Homo sapiens: one gene and its partners. The protein of the gene in region 2 purifies or fractionates together with the protein of the main gene of each other region. This does not show direct contact. Each region holds a gene or a part of one and is shown on either strand. Other genes may lie near its edges.

What was found.
Region 1: the proteins of RAD51C (region 2) and PTPN9 purify together in Homo sapiens (affinity purification with mass spectrometry; 2 studies listed by BioGRID and IntAct, with this or other methods). This does not show direct contact.
Region 3: the proteins of RAD51C (region 2) and KLHL10 purify together in Homo sapiens (affinity purification with mass spectrometry; 2 studies listed by BioGRID and IntAct, with this or other methods). This does not show direct contact.

The regions. Positions count from the first base shown.
Region 1 is NC_000015.10:75,567,363-75,577,467, forward strand, and holds part of PTPN9 (tyrosine-protein phosphatase non-receptor type 9), read right to left. Parts: intron 1-10,105. UniProt on the Homo sapiens protein: Protein-tyrosine phosphatase that could participate in the transfer of hydrophobic ligands or in functions of the Golgi apparatus.
Region 2 is NC_000017.11:58,684,979-58,696,003, forward strand, and holds the start of RAD51C (DNA repair protein RAD51 homolog 3), read left to right. Parts: upstream 1-7,623; 5' UTR 7,624-7,665; coding exon 7,666-7,810; intron 7,811-7,818; exon of another isoform or gene 7,819-7,981; intron 7,982-9,952; coding exon 9,953-10,211; coding exon of another isoform or gene 10,212-10,215; exon of another isoform or gene 10,216-10,402; intron 10,403-11,025. UniProt on the Homo sapiens protein: Essential for the homologous recombination (HR) pathway of DNA repair. Involved in the homologous recombination repair (HRR) pathway of double-stranded DNA breaks arising during DNA replication or induced by DNA-damaging agents.
Region 3 is NC_000017.11:41,832,606-41,842,646, reverse strand, and holds the start of KLHL10 (kelch-like protein 10), read right to left. Parts: upstream 4,823-10,041; 5' UTR 4,715-4,822; coding exon 4,521-4,714; intron 825-4,520; coding exon 335-824; intron 1-334. Other genes in the region: NT5C3B (7-methylguanosine phosphate-specific 5'-nucleotidase), read left to right, coding at 6,454-6,465, 6,690-6,788, 7,375-7,444, 7,531-7,577. UniProt on the Homo sapiens protein: May be a substrate-specific adapter of a CUL3-based E3 ubiquitin-protein ligase complex which mediates the ubiquitination and subsequent proteasomal degradation of target proteins during spermatogenesis.

The DNA of each region.
Region 1 (10,105 bases), on a different chromosome or scaffold from region 2:
ATAATGAATATCATCATATTATCATAATGACGTGTATCTGTAATAATGATTCACATCAAAACAAATGCAAAGGTAAAGATTAGCTAGGTGTTCAAGCAATGAACAAGTAACTAATGGATGAACATCCCCAAACACTTCAGTCCTAAAGTCACAGATGACTTTTTTAGAACCTGCCCAGAAATTACTGTAGAAATAAATTCTGGCTTCAGAATAATTCAATAAACTTACCTGTGCTACCTACACTGAAAAAAGTGACAAGTACTGTGCCGGTATGTTGTGGATGGATTTGGTATTTCAGAGGAAACTGGTACATACTACAGAAACGGCCTTTCCCAAAGGAAAAATGAAATGCTGCCAGGCGCGGTGGCTCACGCCTGTAATCCCAGCACTTTGGGAGGCCGAGGTGGGTGGATCACAAGGTCAGGAGATCAATACCGTCCTGACTAACACGGTGAAACCCTGTCTCTATTAAAAATACAAAAAATTAGCCGGGCGTGGTGGCAGGCGCCTGTAGTCCCAGCTACTCAGGAGACTGAGGCAAGAGAATGGCATTAACCCGGGAGGTGGAGCTTGCAGTGAGCCGAGATTGTGCCACTGCACTCCAGCCTGGGCGACACAGCGAGACTCCGTCTCAAAAAAAAAAAAAAAGAAAACAAAAACTGAAATGCTTATCTCAGAAGCATAAATTAAAGAGAAAAATCATCTCTAATCTACTGTTTCGGTCTTACCATTTTATAGTTTGGACCTAAGAGATCAGCAATCCTTAATAAATAAGGTTTCCCATGAGTTCTGGAGCTTCTCTGCCTCCTGTTCGCACCCTCCATGTCCATGTTTAACAACCTAATGCCAGCCAGGTGCAGTGGCTCATGGCTGTAATCCCAGCACTTTGGGAGGCCGAGGCTGGAGGATCACTTGAGCCTAGGAGTTTAAGACCAGCCTGGGCAACAGAACGAGACCCTGTCTCTACAACAAATAAAAAATAAAAAATCTAACTGGGCATGGTGGTGTGGTGGTGCACGCTTTTAGTCCCAGCTTCTTGGGAGGCTGAGGTAGGAGGATTCCTTGGGCCAGGGAGGTCAAGGCTTCAGCAAGCCATGATCATGCCACTGCACTCCAGTCTGGGTGACAGAGTGAGACCTTGTCTCAAAAAAAAAAAAAAAAACAAAACAAAAAAAAAACAACCTAATGCTGGATGGACACAGTGGCTCATGTCTGTAATCCTAGCACTTTGGGAGGCCGAGGCTGGAAGACTGCTTGAACACAAGAGTTCGGGACCAGCCTAGGCAAGAAAGCAATACCCCCATCTCTTTAGAAAAAAAAAAAAATGTGCCAGGCATGGTGGTACATGCTTGTAGTTCCAGCCACTATAGAGGCTGAGGAAGGAGGACCACTTGGGACCAGGAGTTTCAGGCTGCAGCGAGCTAGGATCAAGCCACTGCACTTCAGCCTGGGCAACAGAACAAGACCCTGTCTCTTACTAAAAAAATTTTAAAAAGTGAACCAAACGCTTAAGAAGCTAACTCGGTTAGGTTCCTAAGGGGCCTTTTCAAAATCAGATATAAAAGGGCTGATGCCAGGCCCTCCAGCACTGAGAAGTGTAGGCTAAACTACCTTTTCTAGGAACATCTTCCCTTATTCTAGAAGAATAGGAATAGAAAACAGTGGTTATTTTAGTGGTCAGGAAGAGCAACCAAGATCTCGCATGGAGGTGTGCTTAGGGGGAAAATGTTAAAATAATTGATTAGGAAAAAGAAAGTACGAGAATTGTCTGATATACCAAGGCAGGATGGTAGACAGAAGCAGTGAAATGGCTGATATTACACTAGAGGTTGTATCTGAACAAATAATCAGGGTTAGGTTCTATGACTTCTAATCTTGGCACTGCAATGGACCAGCCACACTGCCGTAAAATGGGGCTTAATATTTAGAAAATAAAGTTTAAGTACTCCAAAATTACTATGTCTTTTCCAAGACAATAAAGGCATAAAAGTCAGAAAATGAAACTAAAATATACTCACAATGAGTCTTAACTTTTACCTCTTTAAAACAGTTTAGCTCCTGGCCAGGCATGGTGGCTCACGCCTGTAATCCCAGCACTTTGAGAGGCCGAGGCGGGCTGATCACCTGAGGTCAGGAGTTCAAGAGCAGCCTGGCCAATAAGCTGAAACCCCATCTCTACAAAAAATACAAAAATTAGCTGGGCGTGGTGGCGGGCACCTGTAATCCCAGCTACTTGGGAGGCTGAGGCTGGAAAATCGCTTGAACCCAGGAGGCGGAGGTTGCAGTGAGCGGAGATAGTGACAAGAGTGAAACTCCATCTCAAAAAAAAAAAAAAAAAAACAGTTCAGCTCCTTTCTAAAGGAGGGTCTTTTCAATTCATTCATAAGTACTAGGTTGGGTTCCTTAGAGAAAACCTCCAGGCCACTTAATATTCACAAAACTAAAGTCCAAGACCCTTGTGCTCAGAATTTTTTTTTTGAGATGGATTCTCGCTTTGTCACCAGGCTGGAGGGCAGTGGCGCGATCTCAGCTCACAGCAACCCCTGCCTCCCGGTTCAAGCAATTCTCCTGCCTCAGCCTCCCGAGTAGCTGGGACTACAGGTGAGCGCCACCACTCCCAGCTAATTTTTGTATCTTTACTAGAGACGGGATTTCATCATGTTGGCCAGGATGGTCTTGATCTCTTGACCTTGTGATCCACCCGCCTCGGCCTCCCAAAGTGCTGGGATTACAGGCATGAGCCACACCACACCCAACCAGAAATTTTTAATACAGCAAAATTCTCACATCCAAATGAGGTTTTACCTAATTGTTACTTACAGTATCATAAACTATCAGCAATAATGAAAATAATAAGAGTTCTTCACCTTTCCTTCCTTCTTTGTCTCTGTAGAAGACCTCAATTTAACATCATAAATCATTTGGTCCTTGACGTATGGTAACTTCCAGGGAGACAGATGACATTTAGCACAGGACATGTAAGACTGTGGGAAAAGGGAAGTTCTTGGCCGCAAGAAATGGGACAAAACCCTTGCCTTTGGGAAAAATGCCAAAGATCTCTGAAGTCCACGCTAAAGCAGTTAAATTTTTAGCTTTAAAAGATTCCATTACAAAAATCCAAACCAGACTGGGCACAGTGGCTCATGCCTGTAATCCCAACACTTTGGGAGGCCGAGGCAGGAGGATTGCTTGAGCTTAGGAGTTCGTGACCAGCCTGGGCAACATGGTAAAACCCCCCTCTACAAAAAATATAACAAATTAGTCATGTGTGGTAGCATGCCTGTAGTCCCAGGAACCCGGGAGGCGAGGTGGAAGGATCACTTGATCCTGGGAGGCTGGGAGGTCGAGGCTGCAATGAGTTATGATCATGCCACTGCATTCCAGCCTGGGTGACAGAGTAAGATCCTGTCTCCAAAAAAAAAAGCAAAAACCACACCATACAATTAGAATAGGCTTTTAAAAACTACACTATAAAAATGCAAGATAATAATTTTCTGGAATTCATAAGAACCTGTACTAGGTGATGGTCCCCAGGGTGGATATGAATATTTTTTCCCCTTGTAATTGGCTTAAGCTAACATGGTTCTAAAATTTTTCGCTATTCAAAAACGATGAGGACGGGCACGGTAGCTCATGCCTGTAATCCCAGCACTCTGGGAGACCAAGGCAGGTTGATCACCTGAGGTCAGGAGTTTGAGACCAGCCTGGCCAACATGGCGAAACCCCGTCTCTACTAAAAATACAAAAATTAGCCAGGTATGGTGGCGGGCACCTGTAATCCCAGCTACTAGGGAGGCTGAGGCAGGAGAATTGCTTGAACCCGGGAGGCGGCGGTTGCAGTGAGCCGAGATCATGCCACTGCACTCTAGTCTAGGTGACAGAACAAGACTGTCTCAAAAAGAAAAAAACAAAAAACAATGATGAATATCATAATAATGGCTAACTTTTCTGACTACTTATTATATAAGCATTGGGCTAAGTGCTCTACATGCATCTCCTTATTAATCCTCACAACATTGTAAGGTCTAAATAACATAAACTTTAAGAATTTTCAAAAAAAGAAAAAACATAAAATTAAAATAAAAAAAGAAACAAAAATAATAATAATTTTCAGGCTGGGCGTGGTGGCTCACGCCTGTACTCCCAGCATTTTGGGAGGCCAAGGTGGGTAGACTGCTTGAGCCCTGGAGTTCAAGACCAGCCTGGGCAACATAGTGACACCTTATCTCTATTATTTAAAAAATGAAATAAAATAAATTGGTGGTGGCTCACGCTTGTAATCCCAGCACTTTGGGAGGCAGAGGCAGGTGGATCACGAGGTCAGGATATAGAGACCATCATGGCCAACATGGTGAAACCCCATCTCTACTAAAATATAAAAATTGGCCAGGCATGGTGGTGCATGCCAGCAGTCCCAGCTGCTTGGGAGGCTGAGGTAGGAGAATCGCTTGAACACAGGAGGTGGAGGTTGTGCCATTGTGCTCCAGCCTGGTGACAGAGCAAGACTCCGTCTCAAAAAACTAAATAAAAAATAAAAATAAAACTATTAACAGAAACATAAGTACTTTCGAAAACTACTCTATTATCCTATCAATCATCACTGGGATATCCATGCAAAACCAAAATACCCTGAACAGCTATAATTATACAGAATTTTAATCTAGTGAGAGTTCTAGTTAAGAGTCTTGGCAGGGTGAGATGGCTCACACCTGTAATCCCAGCACTTTGGGCTGCTGAGGCACGTGGATTACCTAAGGTCAAGAGTTCAAGACCAGCATGGGCAACATGGTGAAATCCCATCTCTACTAAAAATACAAAAATAAGCCAGGCGTGGTGGCAGGTGCCTGTAATCCCAGCTACTCGGGAGGCCAAGGCATGAGAATCGCTTGAACCCAGGAGGCAAAGGTTGCAGTGAGCTGAGATCGTGCCACTGCCCACAGCCTGGGCAACAAAGCAAGACTCCGTCTCAAAACACAATAACATAATGACAATGAAGATTAATACTTATATGTAGAAATTGTCCTTCACACTGCCAAACTGCCAGCCCATTAAGAAAGGCTTTTACGGCCAGGCATGGTGGCTCATGCCTGTAATCCGAGCACTTGGGGAGGCCAAGGCAGGCTGATCACTTGAGATCAGGAGTTGGAGACCAGACTAGCCAACATGGTGAAACCCCATCTCTACTAAAAAGAAAATACAAAAATTAGTCGGGTGTGATGGTGCATGCCTGTAGTCCCAGCTACTCGAGAGGCTGAGACAGGAGAATCGCTTGAACCCAGAAGGCGGAGGTTGCAGTGGGCTGAGACTGCGCTCCAGCCTGGGCGACAGAGCGAGACTCTGTCTCAAAAAAAAAGAAAAAAAGAAAGAAAGAAAAAGAAAGGCTTTCACAAGCCTTCTTGTGCAAAAGAACAAGAAGATATAAAGAAAATAAAATTTTATTGTAGTTGTGACCACACCTTGAAATGGAGAGTTGACAACTCTGTTTTAAGGAACAAATTTTTTTCCTATAGTAATTTCATCATAATTTCTTGCACAGAGTATACAGTATGTTTCCTCTGGCAATACACAGCTGAGTAAAGGTTTTCTGTATCTTTTCATCTGTACTTTTCAAACTATATTTTAAGAAGCATTAACAAAACCAAACACATATATCAATACCAAAACCCACAAAATTAGCTATTTTATACCCACTTAGGCACCTAAGTAAATTGGCTAATGGCTTCATGGGAAGTAATGTAGTGTAAAAGAGGAAACACTGGCAGTGAAGGCAGAAAACCTAGACCTGGGTGGAAATCATGGCTACATCACTTGTTAACTATGTGACCTTGGGCAATTTCCTTCTCTCAGTCTGAGTTTTCTTATTTGCAAAGTGAGGGTAGTAATTCCAATCTTGGGAGGGACGATTAATTGCATGTGAAATGCCCACCACAGAGCCTGACTGAAAGCAGGAGTTTAGAAAAGATACTGTTACGATTGTTATTCATATAAGCTCCTTAAAAGCAAAAACATCATATTTGTCCTCGTAGCCCAATTGTAGGCTTTATAATTATTGAGGAGCTGAAAAACAAGAAACACCAAAGTTACAAATGAGGATTTGTATCCGTTCAACACATGCCTAGACAGAAAATGAGACTAAGTAATCATGACTTTCAAAAACTATATCAATGCATACACAGCATATAAATCAAAGTATATATTGCCATTTGATGGGGAAAAAAATCAAAATATGTAATGTGCTTATTTTTAAGCCACTCTGAAAGAAGATGATGCTGCCTGTATACAAATCAAGAGTACAACTACTCTTCATTCATTCTGCAAGTATTTCCGTAAGTGCCAGTCATTATGTCAGTCATTATGCTAGGCAATGTGCATATGATGGGGAGCAAAAGCGAAAATAATCCCAACCCTCATAGAGCTTGCTTGCAGTCATGTAATCACACAAATAAGTGTTAACTTGTGATAAGTGATGTGAATGACAGGTAAATGGTGCTCTGAGAACCTATTAGGTTAGAATCTAATCTAACTGAAATCAAGGAAGGCCTTCCAAGGAGGTGAAACCTGAGAGCTGAAGGATGAAGAGGAGGTTAACAAAGGGGGGTGTTTCCAGATGGAGGAAAGCAGCTCCTGCAAAGACCCTGTAAGCAGGAGGAAACAAGGAAAGAAGGCAGGACTATAAGGCCAGTGTGCATGGAGCAGAGACAAGTGTGAGAACTAGCTAGGGCCTAGGCTGCTCAAGGGCCTAGATATATAGCCTACATTCAAAAGTTGCAATTTGATCTCAAGAGCAATGACAAGGCCTGTAATCCTAAGGCTTTGGGAGGCTGAGGCAGGAGGACGGCTTGAACCCAGGAGGTTGAGGCTGTAATGAGCCGTGATTACACCACTGGACTCCAGCCTGGGTGACAAAGTGAGATCCTGTCTCCACAAAAAAAAAAAAAAAAGGCAACCAGAAGCCACTAAAGAGTTTTATGAATGCTTCTTTGCGGGGCAGGCAGGCTGAGGGGAAGATGAAATCAGATTTTCAACAGGACTCTGGCTTCTGGATTCTGGAATATGGATGGACCAGGTGGGAAACAAAAGTCCTGTCAGGATAGGATAGTAGCTTCGAATAGGGTGATGGCAGTGATGGTGGAAGGAAGCCAATGAATTCAAGAGATATTCAGGAAAATCTAACACTGTATTGTACACAAGGGCAGAGGGACAGCAGTGTCCAAGACTTCTGGGTTTCTGATTCATATGACTGTACAGAAGGAGATACCACTCAGGAGGTATTCTGCTTCAGAAATATTTTTAAGGAGCCAGGCGCGGTGGCTCACGCCTGTAATCCCAGCACTTTGGGAGGCTGAGGTGGGTGAATTGCCTGAGGTCAGGAGTTCGAGACCAGCCTAGCTAATGTAGTGAAACCCCATCTCTACTAAAAATACAAAAACTTAGCTGGGTGTGGTGGCGGGCGCCTGTAATCCCAGCTACTAGGGTGGCTGAAGCAAGAGAATTGCTCGAACCCGGGAGGCAGAGGTTGCAATGAGCCAAGATCACGCCATTGCATTCCAGCCTGGGCAACAAGAGCAAAACTCTGTCTCAAAAAAAAAAAAAAAAAAAGAAAGAAAGAAAAGAAATATCTTTTTTTTTTTTTTTTTTTGAGACAGAGGAGACGGAGTCTCGCTCTGTCGGCGGGATCTCGGCTCACTGCAAGCTCCGCCTCCCGGGTTCACGCCATTCTCCTGCCTCAGCCTCCCGAGTAGCTGGGACTACAGGCGCCCGCCACGACGCCCGGCTAATTTTTTGTATTTTTAGTAGAGGCGGGGTTTCACTGTGTTAGCCAGGATGGTCTCGATCTCCTGACCTCATGATCCGCCCGCCTCTGCCTCCCAAAGTGCTGGGATTACAGGCGTGAGCCACCGCGCCCGGCCGAAAAGAAATATCTTTAAGGCTGTTCACACAGGCCAAAAAGGGCCTAACTGCACTACACTTTTGCATGAAAATGTGTAAACCGAATTTGATCCCCTACTTTAAATAAGGCTCTAAAAGATTTTTTGCTATTTACAGAAATCAAACTGACTCTCAAAAGTACAAGGATTTTCCTACACTGAAGAAATTTCAAAGATTCTGCCACAAGCTTCTAAATCAACTCCAAATAAATGTTAAATTGGTTTGAGCAATAGGGCAGCATTACGGAGTGAATGTGTCAGTTCCCATGAGGACCACTTTGATAAGGCTAACACTTATGTACTGCTGTTTAATTTTAATATTTTAAATAAATCTTAAGAGTACCCTTGGCTGGGCGCGGTGGTTCACGCCTGTAATCCCAGCACTTTGGGAGGCCAAGGCGGGTGGATCATGAGGTCAGGAGATCGAGACCATCCTGGCTAACATGGGGAAACCCCGTCTCTACTAAAAATATGAAAAATTAGCCAGGCGTGGTGGCGGGCGCCTGTAGTCCCAGCTACTCGGGAGGCTGAGACAGAAGAATGGCATGAACCCAGGAGGTGGAGCTTGCAGTGAGCCGAGATTGCGCCACTGCACTCCAGCCTGGGCAACAGAGCAAGACTCCATCTCAAAAAAAAAAAAAAAAAAAAAAAGAGTACTCTTGGCTGGGCACAGCGGCCCAGGCCTGTAATCCCAGCATTTTGGGAGGCCAAGGCGGGTGGATCACGAGGTCAAGAAATCGAGACCATCCTCCAACATGGTGAAACCCCGTCTCTAGTAAAAATACAAAACTTAGCTGGGCATGGTGGCACGCACGCCTGAAGTCACAGCTACTTGGGAGGCTGAGGCAGGAGAATCGCTTGAATCAGGGAGGCAGAGTTTGCAGTGAGCCGAGATCACAACGCTACACTTCAGCCTGGCAACAGAGCAAGACTCAGTTAAAAAACAAAAGGGTACTTCTGGCTGTGTGCAGTGGCTCACACCTGTGATCCCAACACTTTGGGAGGCCAAGGCGGGTGGATCACCTGAGGCCAGGAGTATGATGAGACTAGCCTGGCCAACACGGTGAAACCCCATCTCTACTAAAAATACAAAAATTAGCTGGGCATGGTGGGTACCTGTAATCCCAGATACTCAGGAGGCTGAGGCAGGAGAATCGCTTGAACCCGGCAGATGGAGGTTGCAGTGAGCCGAGATCACGCCATTGTACTCCAGTCTGGGCAACAAAACCCAAACTCCGGCCAGGCGCAGTAACTCACGACTGTAATCCCAGCACTTTTGGAGGACGAGGCGGGCAGATCATGAGGTCAGGAGTTCAAGACCAGCCTGGCCAACATGGTGAAACCCCGCGTCTACTAAAAATACAAAAATTAGCTGGGCATGGTGGCAGGCGCCTGTAATCCCAGCTGCTCGGGAGGCTGAGGCAGGAGAATCGTTTGAACCCTGGAGGCAGAGGTTGCAGTGAGCCAAGATCAGGCCACTGCACTCCAGCCTAGATGACAGGGCGAGGCTCTGTCTCAAAAAAACAAACAAACAAACAAAAAATCAAAACTCCATCTCAAAAAAAAAGAGAGTACTCTTATGTGATATTAAACTAAAATATGGTAACATTAGGCATTACCATAATTAGAACTATACTGCTTTTGTTTCAATATTTTGAAATGCTTGTAAAAAAATAATATTTTGTAGAAAAAAGAGATAAGATTTTAAAAACACACACACACACAATCTCTTGACTTTAATAAACATTTTGCCGTTTCCATCCTAGTCCTTGTTAATGCCCATCACATTCAATTCAGGGTAAAAGATAAGGTTTTTACTAGTTAAACACATCTGTATATATGTGTATGCACTATGTACAAAGTAAAGCCAATACCATGTCAATACTATCAATACTTTAATATTTACTTTTCCTGGTTTTAGTTTTCAAATTTGCAACGGATGCTATTTGCATAGAATACTGATGGCTTTAAGTCTTAAAAACAGAAATCTGACTGACCCAAGGAAAAGGATGAAAGAAAGAGATTTTGTCCCTTTAAAATCAGCCAACACATCCTATCTTAGTACTGAAGTACTTCCCAATTCTGGCAGAATGGGCTCCTTGGCCACCTGCTTGCACTAGGGTCTGACTAGCATTTTATTAACATCCAACTGCAGTTACCAGGACATTCATTACCAC
Region 2 (11,025 bases):
TAGTCAAATGTTGAAGGAATGGATGGTTAGAAAATAAAATTAAAAATTAAAAAAGATTCAAATGTAGATCTAAACCATATGTAGAAATAATACGAATGAAAAATCCATTTATAATTTTGTATAGACCTTCTAAACATGTTACCAAAGTCAGAATACAAAAATTGAATACATTAGATTTGGCCTAGTTTTGAAGGACCTGTTTTGAAGCACGTTGGGAGGCCGAGGTGGGTGGATCACCTGAGGTCAGGAGTTCAAGATCAGCCTGGCCAACATGGTGAAACACCGTCTCTACTAAAAAAATACAAAAATTAGCTGAGTGTGGTGGTGCACACCTGTAATCCCAGCTACTCAGGAGGCTGAGGCAGGACAATCGCTTGAACGTGGGAGGTGGAGGTTGCAGTGAGCCGAGATCACACCACCGCACTCCAGCCTGGGCAGCAGAGTAAGACTCGGTGTCAAAAAAAAAAAAAAAGAATGTCAGATTTGACAGATAAATAGTAGTTAATTAGGTGAAGGAGGGAGAGGTAATATTATAGACATATGCAAACACTGTTGAGGGATGAGGTCTAGCACACACAAGGAACTAAGAAAAGGCCAAAGTAGCAGGAGTATAGGAAGCAAATGGGAAAGAGGAAAAGGAAGAAGGTAAAGAGGAAAAACAGGGGCCAAAACATGCAAGCTTTTTTTAAGCCTTATTAAGAAATTTGGTCTTTATCCTAAGAGCAAAATAAGGCGAGGTGCGGTGCCTCATGCCTGTAATCCCAGCAGTTTGGGAGGCTGAGGTGGGTGGATCACCTGAGGTCAGGAGTTCAAGATCAGCCTGGCCAACATGGTGAAACACCATCTCTACTAAAAAAAATACAAAAATTAGCTGGGTGTGGTGGTGTGCACCTGTAATCCCAGCTACTCAGGAGGTTGAGGCAGGACAATCGCCTGAACATGGGAGGTGGAGGTTGCAGTGAGCCGAGATCACACCACCGCACTCCAGCCTGGGCGACAGGGCAAGACTCTGTCTCACAAAAAAAAAAAAAAAAAAAAGATCAAAATAAGGAGTGACATAACTGAAATGTACTGTAAAAAGATCATGCCAGGAGGATCATGGTGGCTCGCACCTGTAATCCCAGAACTTTGGGAGGCCGAGGAGTCCTTGTGACCAGGAGTTCAAAACCAGTCTGGGCAACACCTTGTCTTTACAAAAATTTTTAAAAATTAGCTAGGCACGGTGGCATGTGCCTGTTAGTCTCAGCTTCTTAGGAGGCAAAGGCAGAAGGATCTCTTTCTTGAGCCCAGGAGTTCAAGGTTGCAGTGAGATATGATTATGCAGAGTGAAAGGGAAGGAGGTGTCAAGGATGATTCTAGGTTTATGGCTTATGCAAATGGAAGGATGGATATGTGGTTCATGGAGGCAGGAAATGCAGGAAGAGGGCAAGGTTCTGGGAATGGGGTGAAGGTAATGAGTTAGGCTGAGTTGGAGGAGACTTTGAATTGTCCAGTAGGCAATTAGATATTTGCATCTGGACGGCAGAGGGTCAGGGCTAGAAATACAAATTTGAGAGTCACTGCCATGCCCAGGTTATGGAGGATGTGCTTGCAAAGCAAACAGAAAAGCCAAATATGTAGAAAGGAAATCAGAAGTGTGGCATTAAAAAAGCCAAGTAAGAGAATGTTTCAAAGAGTCGTGGACAACAAATACATATTGGGCTTCTATTATGTATAAGGTCCTGTAAAATTGATACTGCTAGTATATATGTCTGAGGCCTTAAAGAAGCTTTATCATAACCACCTCTAAAGCTATGCCTTTATTCAGAGGTTTTTCTCCTCAGTCTGAACAACATTGACTTCTTTCTCCTATTCCCAAACCCACTTGAACATGAAAGGTCACCTTTTTTTTTTTTTTTTTTTTTTTTTTTTTTGAGATGCAGTCTCGCTCAATCACCCACCCTAGAGCGCAGGGGAGGGATCTCAGCTCACAGCAACCTCCATCTTTGGGGTTCAGGAGATTCTCCTGCCTCAGTCTCCCGAGTAGCTGGGATTACAGATGCCCACCACCACACCTGTAGGGAGCTGAAGGCCCATGGGATGTGACCAACTCAGCATTCCACTGGAGGCTCTATGATCAAACACCAAACTGTTAATCATGAATGCAGGATGTGAGCAAACTCACGACTGCTCCTGCTGACAGAAGATTTGCTGGAGGCAATCACTCCCTGGCACTGAGGTTATCCACTGCGACATCTAGAGAATGCGGTCTTGCAAGCCTACTCTGGACTCAGCAGCTGACCCCTTCTCCCACCTCCCTTCTCACTATCTCTTTTACCTAATAAATACAGAAGGCTGTGTAAAGCTCAGGGCCCTTGTCCACTAGAGGCAAGGTACCCCCTGACCCCTTCTTCCAAATATACTCTTTTGTCTCGTCTTTTATTCCCGCATTTGCCCTCCTTTGTTCAGCCCATAGGTCCGTGCGGGTTACAGAGTGGTGCCCTGATCAGCAACAGAATCGGGTGCTCTACCCACACCTGCCTAAGTTTTGTATTTTTAATAGAGACAGGGTTTCACCATGTTGGCCAGGCTGGTCTTGAACTCATCTCAAGTGATCCACCCACCTAAGCCTCCCAAAATGCTGGGATTACAGGTGTGAGCCACTGCACCCGGCCGTGGTCACCATTTTTTAAAGTTCTATGTTCTTAGGCTAAAAAAAAAATAAACTTCTCCCCAGCTATAACAAAAATTTCATATTATTCCTCTCCTATGTCTCCAGAAACAGCCTAGTCAACCTGAAAATGTCTCGTTATTGGAATACTCTGACAGGTTAACTATAGACATTAACAGCAATAGGTCCTTCCTACCCTTAGAATTACATCAAGATAGCTACACAAGTCAGAAATGCAACATGTCAGAAATACTCAATAAAGATCCTGATAGATTATAAGCTCCATGAGGGCAGAGAATCTATCTTGTTTACCCTGTCATCTGGCACATAACTAGCATTTAATCAATATTTAATCTTGTTTTAGTGATCTAGTCTTCAGAGTGCTAATCCTGAATGTAGACCCCAGTCATAGGATTACTGTGGATCAAGTCAAAGAAAATAAAATATATAAAAGTACTCTACTTCGGCACTTTTACAATTATAGACTTTTTTTGTTTTGTTTTGTTTTTGAGACTGAGTTTTCCTCTTGTCGCCCAGGCTGGAGTACAGTGTCATAATATCGGCTCACTGCAATCTCTGCCTCCCATGTTCCAGCAATTCTCCTGCCTCAGCCTTCCAAATAGCTGGGACTATAGGTACCCTCCACCACCCCCAGTTAATTTTGTATTTTTAGTAGAGACGGGGTTTTACCACATCGCCCAGGCTGGTCTTGAACTCCTGACCTCAAGTGATCTGCCAGCCTCAGCCTCCTAAAGTGATGGGATTACAGGTGTGAGCCACAGTGTCTGGCCTAATTGTAAACATTTTTAAAAAACGTCTCAGCATTAGCATTCTGCTGAGCTAGGTATTCTATAAGGATTTATTCCAACTGAATATGCGCATTAGAATGCTGTAAAAACTGAGAAACAGACTCAGATTTATTATGTACTTTTTTGTGTGATAAGTACTGTATATGTGTTAATTTAATCTTGACCAAAACCCCAGGAGATATTATCTTCTACTTGCAGGTGAGGAGACTGAGTAACTTGCTGAAGGTCACATAGTTGGTAACTTCCAGACATGTGATACAAATCCAAATCTGTGTGACTCCGCAGCCCATGCTGGTTTGCCCATAGCAATGTCTCTCAAATTTTTTCATGAAGTAACCTCAAGTTGCAAGAAAAACCAAAACATATTCCCGGGGGGGGTTTGGGAGATTACTGAAGTATCCAGTTTAAGCCTGATGTGTCTCTGACCTCATACTTTTCTCTTAAATTTTATTTTTATATTTGCATTTTACCCCCACATTTTGTTTTTATTTCTATACATATATTTTTTTTTGAGATGGAGTCTCGCTCTGTCACAGAGGCTGGAGTGCAGTGGCATGATCTTGGCTCACTGCAAGCTCTGCCTCCCGGGTTCACACCATTCTCCTGCCTCAGCCTCCCAAGTAGCTGGGACTACAGGTGCCTGCCACCACACCCGGCTAATTTTTTGTATTTTTAGTAGAGATGGGGTTTCACCGTGTTAGCCAGGATAGTCTATCTCCTGATCTCGTGATCCGCCCACCTCGGCCTCCCAAAGTGCTGTGAAACAGGCGTGAGACATCACGCTCAGCTAATTTATTTATTTTTAGAGGGAGTCTCTCTCTGTTTCCAGGCTAGAGTGCAGTGGCCTGATCTCACTCACTGCAACCTCTGCCTCCTGGGTTCAAGCTATTCTCCTGCCTCAGCCTCCTAAGTAGCTGGGACTATAGGCACACATCAACATGCCCAGCTAATTTTTGTGTTTTTAGTAGAGACAGGGTTTCGTCATGTTGGCCAGGATGGTCTTGATCTCTTGACCTCATGATCCACCCGCCTTGGCCTCCCAAAGTGCTAGGATTACAGGAGTGAGCCACCGTGCCCGGCCTACCCCATGTTTTATTAAAGTTTATTTTCTTTTTCAAAAATTTTAATGATTTATCCACACTACACAGATGTAATGTCTGCTTAATATAAACCATTTCAAATGACTTAGGTAAATCATTTAACTCTTCCCTCCCTGAAAGATTTTTTTTGAGAAAAGTGATTACACAAGAAGGTGCACCTTCCATATTTATCCCATAGCTTTGTTTAGTTCCTAGTGCGTGGTTTCAAAAACCTGGATCCCAGTTTGAAAGCATGACTACAGAGCAAATTGCATTAAAGACATCTTAAGAATGATGATGAAAATAATTATTATAGGCAAGGGCCAGAAGATTTTTTTTTTTTTTTTTTCTGAGATGGAGTCTCGCTCTGTCGCCCAGGCTGGAATGTGGTGGCGTGATCTAGGCTCACTGCAAGCTCCGCCTCCTGGGTTCATGCAATTCTCCTGCCTCAGCCTCCCGAGTAGCTGGGACTACAGGCGCCCACCACCGCACCCAGCTAATTTTTTGTATTTTTAGTAGAGACGGGGTTTCATCATGTTAGCCAGGATGGTCTCGATCTCCTGACCTTGTGATCTGCAGAAGATATTAATAGCACTTAAATTATACAGCTATAGATAGAGTTGAGTGGGGGTTTTTTTGTTTTTTTTATTTTGCTTTGTTTTGTTTTTGAGATGGAGTCTCGCTCTGTCGCCCAGATTGGAGTGGAGTTACGCAATCTCAGCTCACTGCAACCTCAACCTCCCGGGCTCAATTGGTTCTCCCACCTCAGCCTCCCAAGTAGCTGGGACTAGAGGCATGTACCACCATGCTGGCTAATTTTTGTATTTTTTGTAGAGATGGGGTTTTGCCCTGTTGCCCAGGCTGGTCTCAAACTCCTGAGATCAAGCGATGTGCCCTCTTTGGCCTCCCAAAGTGCTTGGATTCCAGGCTTAAGCCACTGTGCCAGGCCAAAGTAGTTTTGAACTTTCCACTGTCAACGAAAGAAATTCTAAACACGACTGATTCCACTGAGTTTGACCAAACTAACTGAAGACTTATTGTTGAATGTGGTAATACCATGTTTTTTCTTCACCCAAGAATCTGGGTGCTTTATAAGCATAAGCATGAAATCTCCCTGAAGATAGTATTTATGCATCCACTGAGCGCTCAAATATAGACCATATTAGAAGTTAAGCAATGGGTTGAGTGGCCAACCACATTTTGGCCAGTCCTACAAGACTTTCTTTGACCTACCAAATGGGGTATAAATGCTTCTCGTATTCTCCCCGCCAGTAGGGACTCAAAATCTTAATAGCTCGGGGTAGTAAAAAGGATGCTAGGTTTGAATCTTGGCTTTAAGAAAACTGTGCTGAGGTGTTTTGTTTGTTTGAGACAGGGTTTCACTCTATCACCCAAGCTGGAGTGCAGTGGCGTGATCATAGCTCACTCCCAGGCTGAAGGGATCCTCCCACCACAGACTTCTGAGTAGCTGGGACGACCGGTGCATGCCACCATGCCCGGCTAATTTTTTGTACTTTTGGTACAGACAGTGTTTCGCCATGTTGTCGAGGCTGGTCTCAAACTCATGAGCTCAAAGAGATCCACCTGCCTCGACCTCCCAAAGTGCTGGGATTACAGGCACGAGCCACTGCGCCCGGCCAGCTTTTTTTCTTTTATCAGAATTGATATTAAACTATATGCTGAGCTTCCATGTCCTTATCTTCCTTTTGGCATGGCTATGGCCATTTGAAATGTGTGGGATTTGCTAAAGTGCTCAACATACGTTGTTTCCTTTTTTAGATCTAAGTATGTAGAGGGCTCTGATTTGCAATATTTAGAAAGTTCTTCTAAGCTGGGAAGAAAAGTCAAGACTAAGAATCATTGCCAACAGGGCCGGGCGCGGTGGCTCACGCCTGTACTCCCAGCATTTTGGGAGGCCGAGGCAGGCGGATCACGAGGTCAGGAGTTCGAGACCAGCCTGGCCAATATGGTGAAACCCCTTCTCTAATAATAATACAAAAATTAGCCGGGCATGGTGGCGTGCGCCTGTAATCCCAGGTACTCAAGAGGCTGAGGCAGGAGACTCACTTGAACCCGGGAGGCGAAGGTTGCAGTGAGCCGACATCGTGCCACTGCACTCCATCATGGGCAACACAGTGAGACTCTGTCTCAAAAAAAAAAAAAAAAAAATCGCCAATAGGTAGGGAATAAGTTACCCCCTGCTAAATAAGTTACACTCACCTAGGCAAGGAAGGAACTCATAAACCACCTTCTAAACTGCTTGCCTTCCTCCCCGAAGTTCTGTAATTTAGAGGCGGTCACTACCACTGCTTGAACACCCCTTCCCAAGTCTGTACCACAAAAGGAGCTCTTGTGTAGCCCAGCCCCTCCTTCTCAGGACCCCAGGAGCCCAGACACACTAATGGGGACATTAGTTGCTTACTTTTCCAGCTACTGCTTAAGCTAGGCAGGCCATGAAGAAATAACGGTCTCAGTAACCTCCATGCTCGGGATACGACTCCCGGGAAGACGTGGGTGGGTGCGGGGAATGCGGACTGATCCCTCCCAGCGGCCGTTGGGGGCTGGCCCACAATCCCTCGCGAGGGCGGGAAAAGCAATGTGGTCGTTGCGGGGGGGGGGGGTCAGAAAAGGGGGACGGTCAGCGGGAAGAGCCAAGAGACTGCAACTCTACAAAGAGCACGCAGATTAATTCTAATGATTGTTCCCTGAGCTTTTCACACCAAAATAATGGTAACTGGCTAGTGTGTGCCCGTTACGCTCACTACTCCCACTCGAGATCATTCCTATTAATGACTCTGAGGCTTCACCTAACAGGCCACGGTGGAGGCAAGGAAATGTGGCGTGGAGAACCCACTGGGCCTGGCTCTCCGTCCTATGGTCTCCGTCCATCGTTTTACAGTCAGGGTGTACATTTGATGAGGAATCTCTAAATGGGATTTTGGGGAATCAAAACGGAATGGTGCATAAGTGTGAAAATTTACAAGACTGCGCAAAGCTGCAAGGCCCGGAGCCCCGTGCGGCCAGGCCGCAGAGCCGGCCCCTTCCGCTTTACGTCTGACGTCACGCCGCACGCCCCAGCGAGGGCGTGCGGAGTTTGGCTGCTCCGGGGTTAGCAGGTGAGCCTGCGATGCGCGGGAAGACGTTCCGCTTTGAAATGCAGCGGGATTTGGTGAGTTTCCCGCTGTCTCCAGCGGTGCGGGTGAAGCTGGTGTCTGCGGGGTTCCAGACTGCTGAGGAACTCCTAGAGGTGAAACCCTCCGAGCTTAGCAAAGGTAACGACTCCTGATGGCAAGCTGAGGCACACCGGCCGCCGTCAGCGCCGCCTCAGTCTTCGTTCTCTCGCCTCGGCCTTCAGCCCAGTCTCCGTTAGATTCTGCTTCCTCCCACGTCCATGTTTACAGCGTGAAAGAGCTCCTCGACTCCACTTACAAGTTGTCTGAATGGTTAGGAGAACTGTGGTCGTGAAAACATTTACTAATTGCTTTTCCTCTGGCAATGCCTGCTGAATGCTTTGAGGATTGTCTCATTTAACCCTCAACCCGCTTACGTAGATTATTATATTCAGTATATGGATGAGAGAACTGATATCTTGGGGAGCTTAGGTAACTTTTCATGCTAACTGGGTTAGGAAATACTGGAGTCAGAATTGGTTGTCTAATTTTTGCTGTTCCAAGATCCAAGGGGTAAGGGTTAAATTTCAGAAATGCAGGATTTTGTGTAGGACTAGAGACACTAAGAATGAGAAAGAGAGTAGAATCCCCGGAATCTTGAGGAAGCATAGAAAGAATATTCTCTTACGTAATTAACTGAAACACCCAAAACCTCATATTCCAGAGCATTGCAGATGGGAACCACTGCATCCTGAGACATACAAATATGAGGCTGGCGGTGGTCACTTGTTGTGCACATCTCTCTATGACATGTCTGGACCTGTGCTATTCACTGAAGAAGATGGAACAGAATTTTAAGTTACTGCCCTTACTGATGGAAAATACAGAGGTTTCAATTCGCCTCTAAAGAATAAGTCTCGTGGACCCAGCCTTAACTGTTTAAGTCATACCGCGCGCAGACTGTGTCCCCCAAGATTTGATGGGCTCTTTTTTCTTCAACAAGTTGGCTTTTCAAAGAAGAAATGTGAGACCCTGAATAATAATGATCACTAACAACTATTGACTACTTTAGATGGTCTTGATATTCTACCAAGCTTTTTACATGTATCGTCTCATTCCCATTTTATAGACGAAAAAAATCTGAGCAAAAAAGAAAAAGTGAAGTAACTTGCCCAAAGTCATGCAGTAAGTGGTGCCAGGATTTACAAACCCAGGCAATCTAATTCCAGCATTCAGGCTCTTGATAGGATTTTCATTTCCTAAATGCTGTCATCACCATTGTCTTTTATTAGCCCCATATTTATGGCTCATATTCTTATCAGATCAAGCACTGATATATCAAACTGATAAGTGATGTCATCCTCACCATTATTTCTTCACCAGCTTGTTTTGTAATTGCCATTTTCTTTTCTCAGGCCACACTGTCAGATGGGTGAAATTGTGTAGTCGAGGAAGCATAAATGTATTCTTTAAAATGCTTGTGCCTTGAATAATTGTTCTCATTAGTTTGGAGTGATACATGAATTTTTTACATCAGTTATTTCCATGAAAAGTTTTTATTATAAATAATACATGCATATGTGCTTCTTAAAGTTGTACCTTGTTTTAGGCAGTTAAAACATCTATTTTCATTCTCATCTGAAAAATAATTTGTATACCTTATGAGAGCGAGATAATTATGGCTTCATAAGACCAAAAGGGATAGTAAAAATATGGTAATAGTGAGTACATTTTTATTTCTGCTTCCTGAGACACTTGTAGGTACTCAGAAATGCTTTAGTTGAATTGTTTCTGAGGTAATAGGTAATTCTTTATGTGATGACTAAGAAAACGAATACCTTTATTAAGCTGAATTTTTTTTTTTTTTTTTTTGAGACGGAGTCTCGCACTGTCATCCAGGCTGGAATGCAGTGGTGCGATCCAGGCTGGAGTGCAGTGGTGCAGGTTCAAGTGATTGTCCTGCCTCAGCCTCCCAAGTAGCTGGAATTATAACGCGTGCCACCATGCCCGGCTAATTTTTGTATTTTTAGTAGAGACGGAGTTTCACCATGTTGGCCAGGCTGGTCTTCAACTCCTGACCTCAGGTGATCTGGCTGCCTCAGCCTCCCAAAGTACTGGGATTTTAGGCATGAGCCACTGTGTCCGGCCAAACTGAAAAATTAAATGGTTGATAGAATGTTGCATTTTTATGTTTCTCCACTCCTAGCATCACTGTTGTCTACAAATTAATAAAGACAATCGATTATCATGTTACACTTTTAAATCTCTAAAATTAGGGTTCTTTTTTTCTTATTTTACTTTCAGAAGTTGGGATATCTAAAGCAGAAGCCTTAGAAACTCTGCAAATTATCAGAAGAGAATGTCTCACAAATAAACCAAGATATGCTGGTACATCTGAGTCACACAAGAAGTGTACAGCACTGGAACTTCTTGAGCAGGAGCATACCCAGGGCTTCATAATCACCTTCTGTTCAGCACTAGATGATATTCTTGGGGGTGGAGTGCCCTTAATGAAAACAACAGAAATTTGTGGTGCACCAGGTGTTGGAAAAACACAATTATGGTAAAATAAAGTGTTCTCCTTTTAAGGGTGGGTTTAATAACATATTATGAAAGTAGTATTTTGTACTATCGTCAGGAAACCAAATAAGATATATATGTGCTCTTAATTTTAAGTGTGTATGTGCATTAAACAAAAATTAGCTTACTATTTGTGTTACTTCATTATCCCTTCTTGATAAATGTATGCAATTATTCTGATGTGAAAAAGTGTTTCTTTTGCAAATTGTACTGCAGTCATAAGGTTAAACAGGAAGTTTCTGCGTTATTCATTCCTGAGACTATATTTGAAAGTCAGATGTTTGAAAGTAGATTTATGGCTAGGGGTAGTGGCTCATGCCTATAATCCCAGCACTTTGGGAGGCCGAGGCAGGAGGATTGCTTGAGCCCAGGAGTTTGAGGCCTGCCTGGGCAACATAGTGAGACCTCGTCTCTACTAAAAATGGAAAATTAGCTGAGTGTGGTGGCACATGCCTGTGGTCCTAGCTACTTGGGAGGCTGAGGCAGGAGGATAGCTTGAGCCGGGGAGGTCAAAACTGCAGTGAGCCTTAATCACATCACTGGGCAGCAGAGTGAGACCCTATCTCAAAAAAAAAAGAGGCCGGGGATGGTGGCTCACACCTGTAATCCCAGCACTTTGGGAGGCTGAGGCGGGTGGATCACCTGAGATCAGGAGTTCAAGACCAGCCTAGTCAACATGGCGAAACCCCATCTCTACTAAAAATAAAAAAATTAGCCAGGCATGGTGGTTCACGCCTATAGTCTCAGCTCCTCGGGAGGCTGAGGCAGGAGAATCGCTTGTACTTGGGAGGTGGAGG
Region 3 (10,041 bases), about 17 Mb from region 2:
TTTAAATTTTATAACCTATGTTGCCCAGGCTGGCAAACTCTGGGCTCAAGTGATTCTCCACCTCGGCCTCCCAAAGTGAGCCACCACACCCCACCTAGAATTATTTTGAAGGCTCTCTTCTTCCCCCACCACCAGGAAGGATTTTGGTCAAAGAATATAACTTAGGTAAAAAGAACTAGTAATGCCAAGGGAAAAGACAGTTGCAAAATTCCAGAGAATAGTAGATGCCTTCTATCTAAGGACATGTAAATACAGCCTTGGGATCTGTCATATGTCTGAATTTTGCTTTTAGGACAATCTCTCTGTGATAAATGAATCAAGAGTGAACACTGACCTTAGGAAGCAAAATTGAAATGTGCTGCTTTCTATTTTGGGGGTCATGAGAAATCCACTTTAAAATGGCCTCAAATACAGCATCTTCCTGTTTGACATTGAGCTCATCTTTCTCAATGATATCCTTAAGTTCAGTGACCGAGAGCTCTAAAAATTCTGCCGAGACTTTCACCATCTCCTCAAAGTTGTGCAGTATGAACATGTAGGCCTTCTGCCTCAGCTCAGGACAGTAGTAGTAGTCCGTGAACTTACAGATGCCGATACAATTATCCAAGCACAGCTCTGACTTGAGGAACTCGCAGCAACCCCTGACGATACCCATGATGTTAAACTGGTCTGCAGCAGCAAGCAGTTTCTCCACATTGTCCGGTGTGATAGGCACGGTCCGGGTGTATGCATACTCAATGATTAGCTTCATCATGTCGGGAGAAATGCCAGGGATGTTGTATACCTTCTTTTCAGTGTTGTTCCAGCCACTTGTAAACAAAGCTCTGGAAAAAAGAAAGAAACTAGCAGCCACGGAAACATTTCTCTCCTGTTAGGTGAGTACATTGGAAATGGTCTGAGAAAGTGGGGTGCAGGCATGTGCTATATACAGTGGACAAGAAGAACACCTTTCCAAGAACTCTGACTTTGGTCACTCTTACCTTGTGGATGGAGAAATTAAGATCTAGAACTGAGAGTAAGACCCAGGTCTCTTGGGCCAGGCGTGGTGGCTCACGCCTATAATCTCAGCACTTTGGGAGGCCGAAGCGGGTGGATCATGAGGTCAGGAGTTCAAGACCAGCCTGGCCAACGTGGTGAAACCCCGTCTCTACTAAAAATACAAAAATTAGCTGGGCATGGTGGCACATGCCTGTAGTCCCAGCTACTTGGGAGGCTGAGGCAGGAGAATCGCTTAAACCTGGGAGGCGGAGGTTGCAGTGAGCCAAGATCATGACACTACACTCCAGCCTGGGGGACACAGCGAGACTCTGTCTGAAAAAATAAAAATAAAATGGCCACTCACTGCTTTTTATCTTCCTTTTCTTATTTTCCCAGGCATTTATGATGATTTGATATGCATTTTACTCATTTAATGCCTGTTTCCCCATCCAGGGGGTAAACTTCATGAGAACAGGAATGCTTCTCTTTTTATTAATTGTTTTCTTTTCTTTTTTTCTTTTTTTTTTTGGAAACAGGGTCTTGCTCTGTCACCCAGGGTAGAGTGCAATGGCATGATCTTGGCTCACTGCAACCTCCAACTCCAGAGTGCAAGCAATTTTCCTGCCTCAGCCTCTTGAGTAGCTGGGATTATAGGTGTGTGCCACCACGCTCAACTGATTTTTGTATTTTTTAGTAGAGATGCGATTTCACCATGTTGGCCAGGCTGGTTTCATCATATTGGTCAGGCTTGTCTCGCACTCCTGACCTCAGGTGATCTGCCTGCCTCGGCCTCCCAAAGTGCTGGGATTACACGGGTGAGCCACCATGCCCGGCTTTTGCTTCCTTTTTTTAAGAAGTTTAAGGAAATGTGGTCTTAGAAATCAAATTCTTCCTCTAGAGCAGGGGTCTGCAAACCTATGGACTCTGTCCAAATTTGGCCCACCTCTTGTTTTCATGCTGCCCACAAATTAAGAATGATTTTTACATTTTAAATGGCTGGAGGAAAAAATCTTTTTTTTTTTTTTGAGATGGAGTCTCGCTCTGTCACCCAGGCTGGAGTGCAGTGGCTTGATCTTGGCTCAGTGCAACCTCTGCCTCCCAGGTTCAAGCAATTCTCTGCCTCAGCCTCCCGAGTAGCTGGGATTATAGGTGCCCACCACCATGCCCGGCTTTTTGTATTTATGCCCGGTTTTTTGTATTTTTAGTAGAAATGGGATTTCACCATCTTGGCCAGGCTGGTCTTGAATTCCTGATCTCATGATCCACCCACCTCAGCCTCCCAAATTATTGGGATTCCAGGCGTGAGCCACTGCGCCCCGCTGGTTGGGGGAAAAAATCAAAAGAATATTCTGTGACACCTGAAAATTATAATACATTTAAATTTCAGTGTCCATAAATAATCTTATTGGAATACAGCCACACCCATTCATTTAGTATTGTCTAAGGCTGCTTTTGCAGTATAAAAACAGAGTAGTTGCAACAGACTGTGTGGCCTGCAAAAACCTAAAACAATTACTATTTGGTCTATTTCTGGACTCAGCTGAGCGCGTTGGCTCACGCCTGTAATCCCAGCACTCTGGGAGGCTGAGGCAGGCGGATCACCTGAAGTCAGGAGTTCAAGACCAGCCTGGCCAACATAGTGAAACCTGTAACCCCAGCTACTCGGGAGGCTGAGGCAGGAGAATTGCTTGAACTTGGGAGGCAGAGGTTGCAGTGAGCAGAGATCATGCCATTGCATTCCAGCCTGGGTGACAAGAACAAAACTCCATTTCAAAAAAAAAAAGAAAAATTAGCCAGATGTGGTGGCACACAGCTGTAATCCCAGATATTCGGGAGGCTGAGGCAGGAGAATCGCTTGAACCTGAGAGGTGGAGGTTGCAGTGAGCTGAGATTGTGCCACTGCACTCCAGCCTGGGTGACAGAGCAAGACTCCATCTCAAAAAAATAAAAATAAAAAATAAATTGTGGACTCTGCTCTGTGGTCTACCTGAATGAGAAGTTTTAGCAACAGGTAGGACACATTGATCATATCTTCATTGGAATTGATTACTCAAACATTTTCAGCTCATGAACAAAATAGCCCTTCTACCTCCTGGGTTACAATGGTTTTAGCCCAAACTCCCTTTTTCTTCTGATATTTCCTGGGTATTTCCCCCTCATCTCCCTTCCCATCCCCTTAATCCTTGTTAATTTATCACCCTGTTTGAAATGGTCTCTATTGGGATAGGGGTACAGGGGGGTCCCTGAAGTGGCATTGTCATCTGAAATCCAGTAGGGATGTCCAACCTTCCCAAAGGTTGGTTTGGGTGAGAATCAAAGATTAAAGCACCTGGCCCACCAATAGTTGGTTGAAATCCAGTTGAAAAATCAGACCTTAAAGGCTGGGTGCAGTGGCTCATGCCTGTAATCCCAGCACTTTGGGAGACCAAGGTGGGTGGATCACGAAGTCAGGTGTTCGAGACCAGACTGACCAACATGGTGAAACCCCGTCTCTACTAAAAACACAAAAATTAGCTGGGCATGGTGGCGGGAGCCTGTAATTCCAGCTACTCGGGAGGCTGAGACAGAAGAATCGCTTGAGCCTGGGAGGCAGCGGTTGCAGTGAGCCGAGATCACGCCACTGCATTCCAGCCTGGGGGACAAAGCGAGACTCCATCTTAAAAAAAGAAAAATTGTATCTTGCCAGGCGCGGTGGCTAATGCCTGTAATCCTAGCACTTTGGGAGGTCAAGACGGGCAGATCACCTGAGGTCAGGAGTTTGAGACCAGCCTGAGCGACATGGCAAAACCCTGTCTCTACTAAAAATACAAAAATTAGCCGGGCGTGGTGTCAGGCGCCTGTAATCCCAGCTACTTGAGAGGCTGAGGTGGGAGAATGGATTGAACTGGGGAGGCGGAGTTTGCAGTGAGCCGAGATGGCGCCATTGCACTCCAGCCTGGGTAACAGAATGAGACTCATCTCAAAAAAAAAAGACAAAAATCAGATCTCTCAAGAGCAAAAGGAAAAAAAAAAACAAAACAAACAAAAAAAAAAAAGAGAGAAAAAAGGCCCTGACCCTAGTCATGCCTCTTCAGAAGGCAAAGGAGCCAGGCAGGAGCTCCTGCCTGGACCAGAGTTGGCCAGGCACAGTGGTAATCCCAGCACTTTGGGAGACTGAGGCAGGAGGATCGCTTTGGGCCAGGAGTTCAAGACCAGCCTGGGCAACATAGCGAGACTCCCTCTCTACAGAACATTTCAAAAGTAGCCGGACGTAGCAGCATGTGCCTGTAGACCTAGCTACTTGGGAGGCTGGAGTAGGTGGATTGTTTGAGCCCAGCAGTTGAAGGCTGCAGTGAGCTATGATTGCATCACTACACTCCAGCCTGGGTGAAAGAATGAGAGCTTATCTCTAAAAAAAAAATTTTTTTTTAATTTTTAAGGAGCCCAGAGCTTTGACAGTGTCCCTAAAGTTAAGGTGATGGGGTGGGAAACAGAAAATGGATCAAAGTGTCTCAAAATGAGCCCAATTACCCCTTTGGCTGAATTTGGCAACCCTGTTATACCTAAAGTAGGAACTGCAGCTACAGAGGATGTTCTTATGGGCACTGAACTCAAAGCCATTGACCTTGATGACCACGTCGCAGAGCTTGCCCTCTAGTCTAAGCTCGTTGAAGATCTCACAGGCCATCGCACTCATCTTCCTCTCCATGTGAGGCTGGTGGAAACGTGTGGAGGCCGCCGCGCTCTCCATCTCCATGGCACCCTGGGACAGCGGAGAGAGGCTGCTTTCCTAGGGTGTCGGGGAGGGTTGTGGGGGGCCCCTTTAGCCAGCTGTCGCTCCTTTTCCCTACTACATCTTTTGTATAGGGTCTATCAGGCAACCCAAGTTCCAGAATCCTGGCCCTGCAGTGAGATCACACAGGATTGTGCTCTCAGGTTCTGGAACTGCCTCCTGGACTTGTCCTCTTCCTTCTCCCCTCCTTACCACCCCACTTAGGCTGAAAACCACCTCACACCTCCTTCTGTGTCCTTGAACCCAAAACAGAACCATGACCACTAGCACCATCTGAGTGTTTATTGATTCCAGCTCCTGTTACTCACCTGATACAGGTCTCTATCCCTGGAGCATTCATCTACCTTCCACAGCCCAACACTTGGCTCCCTAGACACCGAACTCAAGGAAATCCAAGTCAATTGAGGCTGAAGGGAGAAGTAAAACTGATTAAATTTCTTTCTTAGGCCGGGCGCAGTGGCTCACACCTGTAATCCCAGCACGAGGTGGATGGATCACAAGGTCAAGAGATCAAGGCCATCCTGGCCAACATGGTGAAACCTCGTCTCTACTAAAAATACAAAAATTAGCTGGGCGTGGTGGCACATGCCTGTAGTCCCAGCTACTTGGGAGGCTGAGGCAGGAGAATCGCTTCAACCCAGGAGATGGAGGTTGTAGTGAGCCGAGATCGCTCCACTGCACTCCAGCCTGGCGACAGAGTGAGACTCCATCTCAAAAAAAAAATCTTTCTTTTTCTAGGGACGGGTCTCGCTCTCTCACCCAGGCTGGAGTGCAGTGGTGTGATCATAACTCACTACAGCCTCGACCTCCTGGGCTTAAGTGATCCTCCCACCTCAGCCTCCTGAATAGCTGGGATTACAAGTGCTCCGCACCGTGCCCAGCCAACGCTGATTACATTTCAGAAAGCTGTCCCGGGTCTCCCAGCCCGCTGGATGGGTTAGTCACTCAGTTTCTTCTGGAATGAGGAATGGCCTAGTTAACAGAGCCCTTTCTGGGTGATTAACAGAATTCAGTTTATGGCTCCTTCATCTCTCCTCCCATCCAGCCGTGTGGTTTTTCTGTTTTTGTTTCTGAGACAGGGTGTCATCTGTCACCCAGGGTGGAGTGCAGTGGTATGATCTCGGCCTACTGGAGCCTGGATCTCCCGGGCTCAAGTGATCCTCGTGCCTCAGCCTCCCGAGTAGCTGGGACTACAACAGGTGCGTGTCACCATGCCCGGCTAATTTTTGTATTTTTTGTAGAGACAGGGTTTCGTCATATTGCCCAGGCTGGTCTCGAACTCTTCGGCTCAAGCGATCATCCTGCCTCGGCCTCCCAAAGTCCTGGGATTACAGGTATGGGCCACCGCGCCCAGCCCCAGTCATGTTTTTGTCACAAACTTTCAGCCTGGAAATGACCACGTTTGGCAAGGCTTTTCCTCCACAAAGAGTGGCAGAACCCTACCTACCCACGTAACCCCAACACCTTGGGACCTTCACCCTGCTCTTCATAATAAATAGAACCCTCCTCCAGTTTGCCTAGCGCAACCGGCAAGCCCACCCGGATCGCGGCCATCTCCGGGACCGCTCGATTCTCGGCCCCACCCCCGCCCCGCCCCCGGCCCCACCAACCCCCGCCCGGGCTCCAGGCGGGAGGCGACGCCTGCGCAGTGCGGTCGCGGGGCTGTCGTTGTCCCGCGAGCCGCCGACCAGGCCTCGAACGGGATGGCAGAGGAGGTGAGGAGGGAGGAAGCGTCCGGAGTGGGGCGGGCCCGGACTCCGACCCCCGGGGCGCTTCGAGCCCCCCAGCTGGTCACCGAGGCACCGCCGCTTCACCCAGGCCAGTAGCCGCCCCCTCGCGCACCCCGGCCCCGCCTCACACGCGCGCCCGAGCGAGCCCCGGGCTCCCCTCGGGCCCAGCGTGGCGCAGGGGTCAGTGGTTCTCTCGGGTCTCGGGACAGGTGAGCACCCTGATGAAGGCCACGGTCCTGATGCGGCAGCCTGGGCGGGTGCAGGAGATCGTGGGCGCCCTCCGCAAGGGCGGCGGAGACCGGTTACAGGTACCTCTGGGGCGTGCGGGGGCCGGCCGGGCTGGGGGCGGCTGGAGAGGCTTCCTGCCCATTGGGCCTTCCCGCTTTGCTCTGCCGCGGACCCCTCCTAGCTCTCTGCCCCAAGAAATGGCCGGGAGCTTGAAGGAGAGCGGGTTGGTTCGCCTGTCCTAAAACCCAAATTTCAGATTTCTCAATATGGTCATGCTGCTTCCTCTAATTGGACAGAAGGCGCCCACACCAGTACCTAGGGCCTTATCCTCCCCAAGCCAGCGGCTCCCCAGTAAGTTGAAGATGTCCAGATGGGCCGTAATGGTAGAGATCTCTTAGGAGGGACCTGATATTGAAGGAGTCAGAGGGGTCCTGAGTATTCACCCTTGCCCCCACACTAGGAGACTGCGTTTTCCTCAGGGTTAACGGGTACTAATTAGGATCACTTCCCCTCTATCCCTCTGTGTCACTCGGTAACTCCCCTAGGGCTTTGCCTACATCCTGGCCACTGAGCTGTATTGATTTCCATAATCATCCCCCAGGCTGAGGCAGGGCCACACTAGAATTCTGGTGCCTATTTAGGCATCATCTCTCTTTTGCCTTATAGGTGATTTCTGATTTTGACATGACCTTGAGCAGGTTTGCATATAATGGAAAGCGATGCCCTTCTTCTTACAGTAAGTCACATTCTAGCTTCCCTTGTTGAGCTTGACAAGACGATGGGTTCTAAGGGACAAGTAAAAGGAGTTTTCTCTTTTTCCAGATATTCTGGATAATAGCAAGATCATCAGTGAGGAGTGTCGGAAAGAGGTGGGTTGCTCCCGTCCTTTGCTCAGAAATGGTTGTCATTTGCTACTTCAAATGGTTCCTGATTGGAACCAAAGATTCCAGTATAGAGACCTTAGAAAATTAATTTTTAAAAACTTGTTGTTTTGCTAAGGAGGGTCTAGTTTTAATACATTAAGACAGCTTTTCCTTACTGGCCAGGACATATGATGATTAATGGTTGGAACTGGACATTATATTTACTGTTGGCTATAGAGTTTACAAGAGATTTGAACATTCTGGAGGTTCAGCAACTTACCCAGGGTCATACAGCCAAATGGCAGAGCTTGTTTGTTTGTTTGTTTTGAGACAGGGTCTCACTCTATCACCCAGGCTGGAGTGCAATGGCTTGATCTTTGTTCACTGCAGCCTTGACCTCCTAGGCTCAAGTGATCCTCCTGCCTCAGCCCTACTGAGTAGCTGGAACTACAAGCATGTAACATTACACCTAGCTAATTTTAAAAATTTTTTGTAGAGATGGGGTCTCACTATGTTGCCTAGGTTGGTCTTGAACTCCTGAGCTCAAGCAATCCTCCTTCCTCAGCCTCCCCAAAGTGCTGGGCTTATAGGCATGAGCTACCACACCTGGCCTTTTTAAAAGAAAATTTATATTCTTCTGTTGGGTTCTAGTGTGTGTGTGTGTGTGTGTGTGTGTGTGTGTATTTTTTTTTTTGAGACAGAGTCTTGCTCTATGGCCCAGGCTGGAGTGGCATAATCTCAGCTCACTGCAACCTCGGTTCAAGCAATTCTCATGCCTCAGCCTCTCGAGTAGCTGGGATTACCAGCATGCATCACCATGCCCGGCTAATTTTTGTATTTTTAGTAGAGACGAGGTTTCTCCATGTTGGTCAGGCTGATCTCGAACTCCCAACCTCAGGTGATCCGCCCGCCTTGGCCTCCCAAAGTGCTGAGATTACAGGCATGAGCCATCTTGCCCAGCCTGATTTTTAGAGAAAGGTTCTCACTCCAAAAAAACACACAGATTGAGAATCTTAATACATTTCAGAAGTTTTCTGCCTTTGTTACTATGTCATCTTTCATTTAATCTTCTTTTGAACAGATGGACAGGGATTCCATTTGATCTTGTAATGTTCCTGAGAATCATGCATGTATTAAAATTCTTTACTTGGTCAATTCTCATTTTTACTAGGCACTGTTACGGACTGGCTCTGTGTAACACATGATCCCTGGAACAGCCCCTTTAGAGTGTCAAAGTCTTGGCACATAGAAGGAAACCTTAGAGGAAACACACATAGATGCTGTGCATTCACATGATATTGACACTTTTGACGGAATTGTCCACCAACATGCTGTGTCCCAAAGTACAGTCTTCTAGTTATATTTCATTTTTTTTGCCATATCTGTATATCACCTTTACTAAATCTTTCTCTAAATTGGCCTGCTTTTAAAAATTGTAATTAACTTATAAAGAAACAGGCCGGGTGTGGTGGTTCACGCCTGTAATCCCAGCATTTCTGGGAGGCTGAGGCGGGCAGATCGGTTGAGGTCAGGAGATCGAGACCAGCCTGGACAACATGGCAAAACCCTGTCTCTACTAAAAATACAAAAAATTAGCTGGGCGTAGTGGTGCCTGCCTGTAATCCCAGCTACTCGGGAGGCTGAGGCAGAAGAATTGCTCGAACCCGGGAGGCGGAGGTTGCAGTGAGCCGAGATTGCGCCACTGCACTCCAGCCTGGGCAACAGAGTGAGACTTGTCTCAAAAAAAAAAAAAATTGTACATGAAAATGAATCCAAAACTTCTGAGTTGAAAAGCGCTTCTCCATGAATTCCCTAAAGTTTTCTTACCTATCACCTGAGAAAGTGGACCACATTCTGGGAAACACAGCATTAAGTAAGTTCTTACTGGTTAAGCCCTGAAAATTGAGCTAATTAATAACAGCAAAAAAATCTTAGTACCCTTCTTCTCTGATAGTAAAATCTCATATTGCTGACTTTTAGACCTCACTCTCAGGGTGAGTACAAAGGAATGACCAGCTCTGTGGATCCAGGTGCTCCCTGGACTTCACCAAATGGGTAAAAATGTGAGTGTATTGAGCGATTATGTTGGAAGATAATATGAGAAGAGAAACTTAGGTCTTATAAATGACATGTCCCCAAAGGAAAACTTGAAGAAAATTTCATGTAACACTCTCTTAGATGAAGTTGCATCTTCTTTTTATTTGAGACACAGTTTTACTCTGTGGCCCAGGCTGGAGTGCAGTGGTGTGATCTCGTCTTGGCTCACTGCAACCTCCGCCTCCTGGGTTCAAACGATTCTCATTTTTCAGCCTCCTGAGTAGCTGGGATTAAAGGCGCATGCCACTACACCGGCTAATTTTTGTATTTTTTAGTAGAGACAGGGTTTCGCCATGTTGGCCAGGCTGGACTCGAACTCCTGACCTCAAGTGATCCACCTGCCTCAGCCTCCTAAAGCACTGGGATTGCAGGT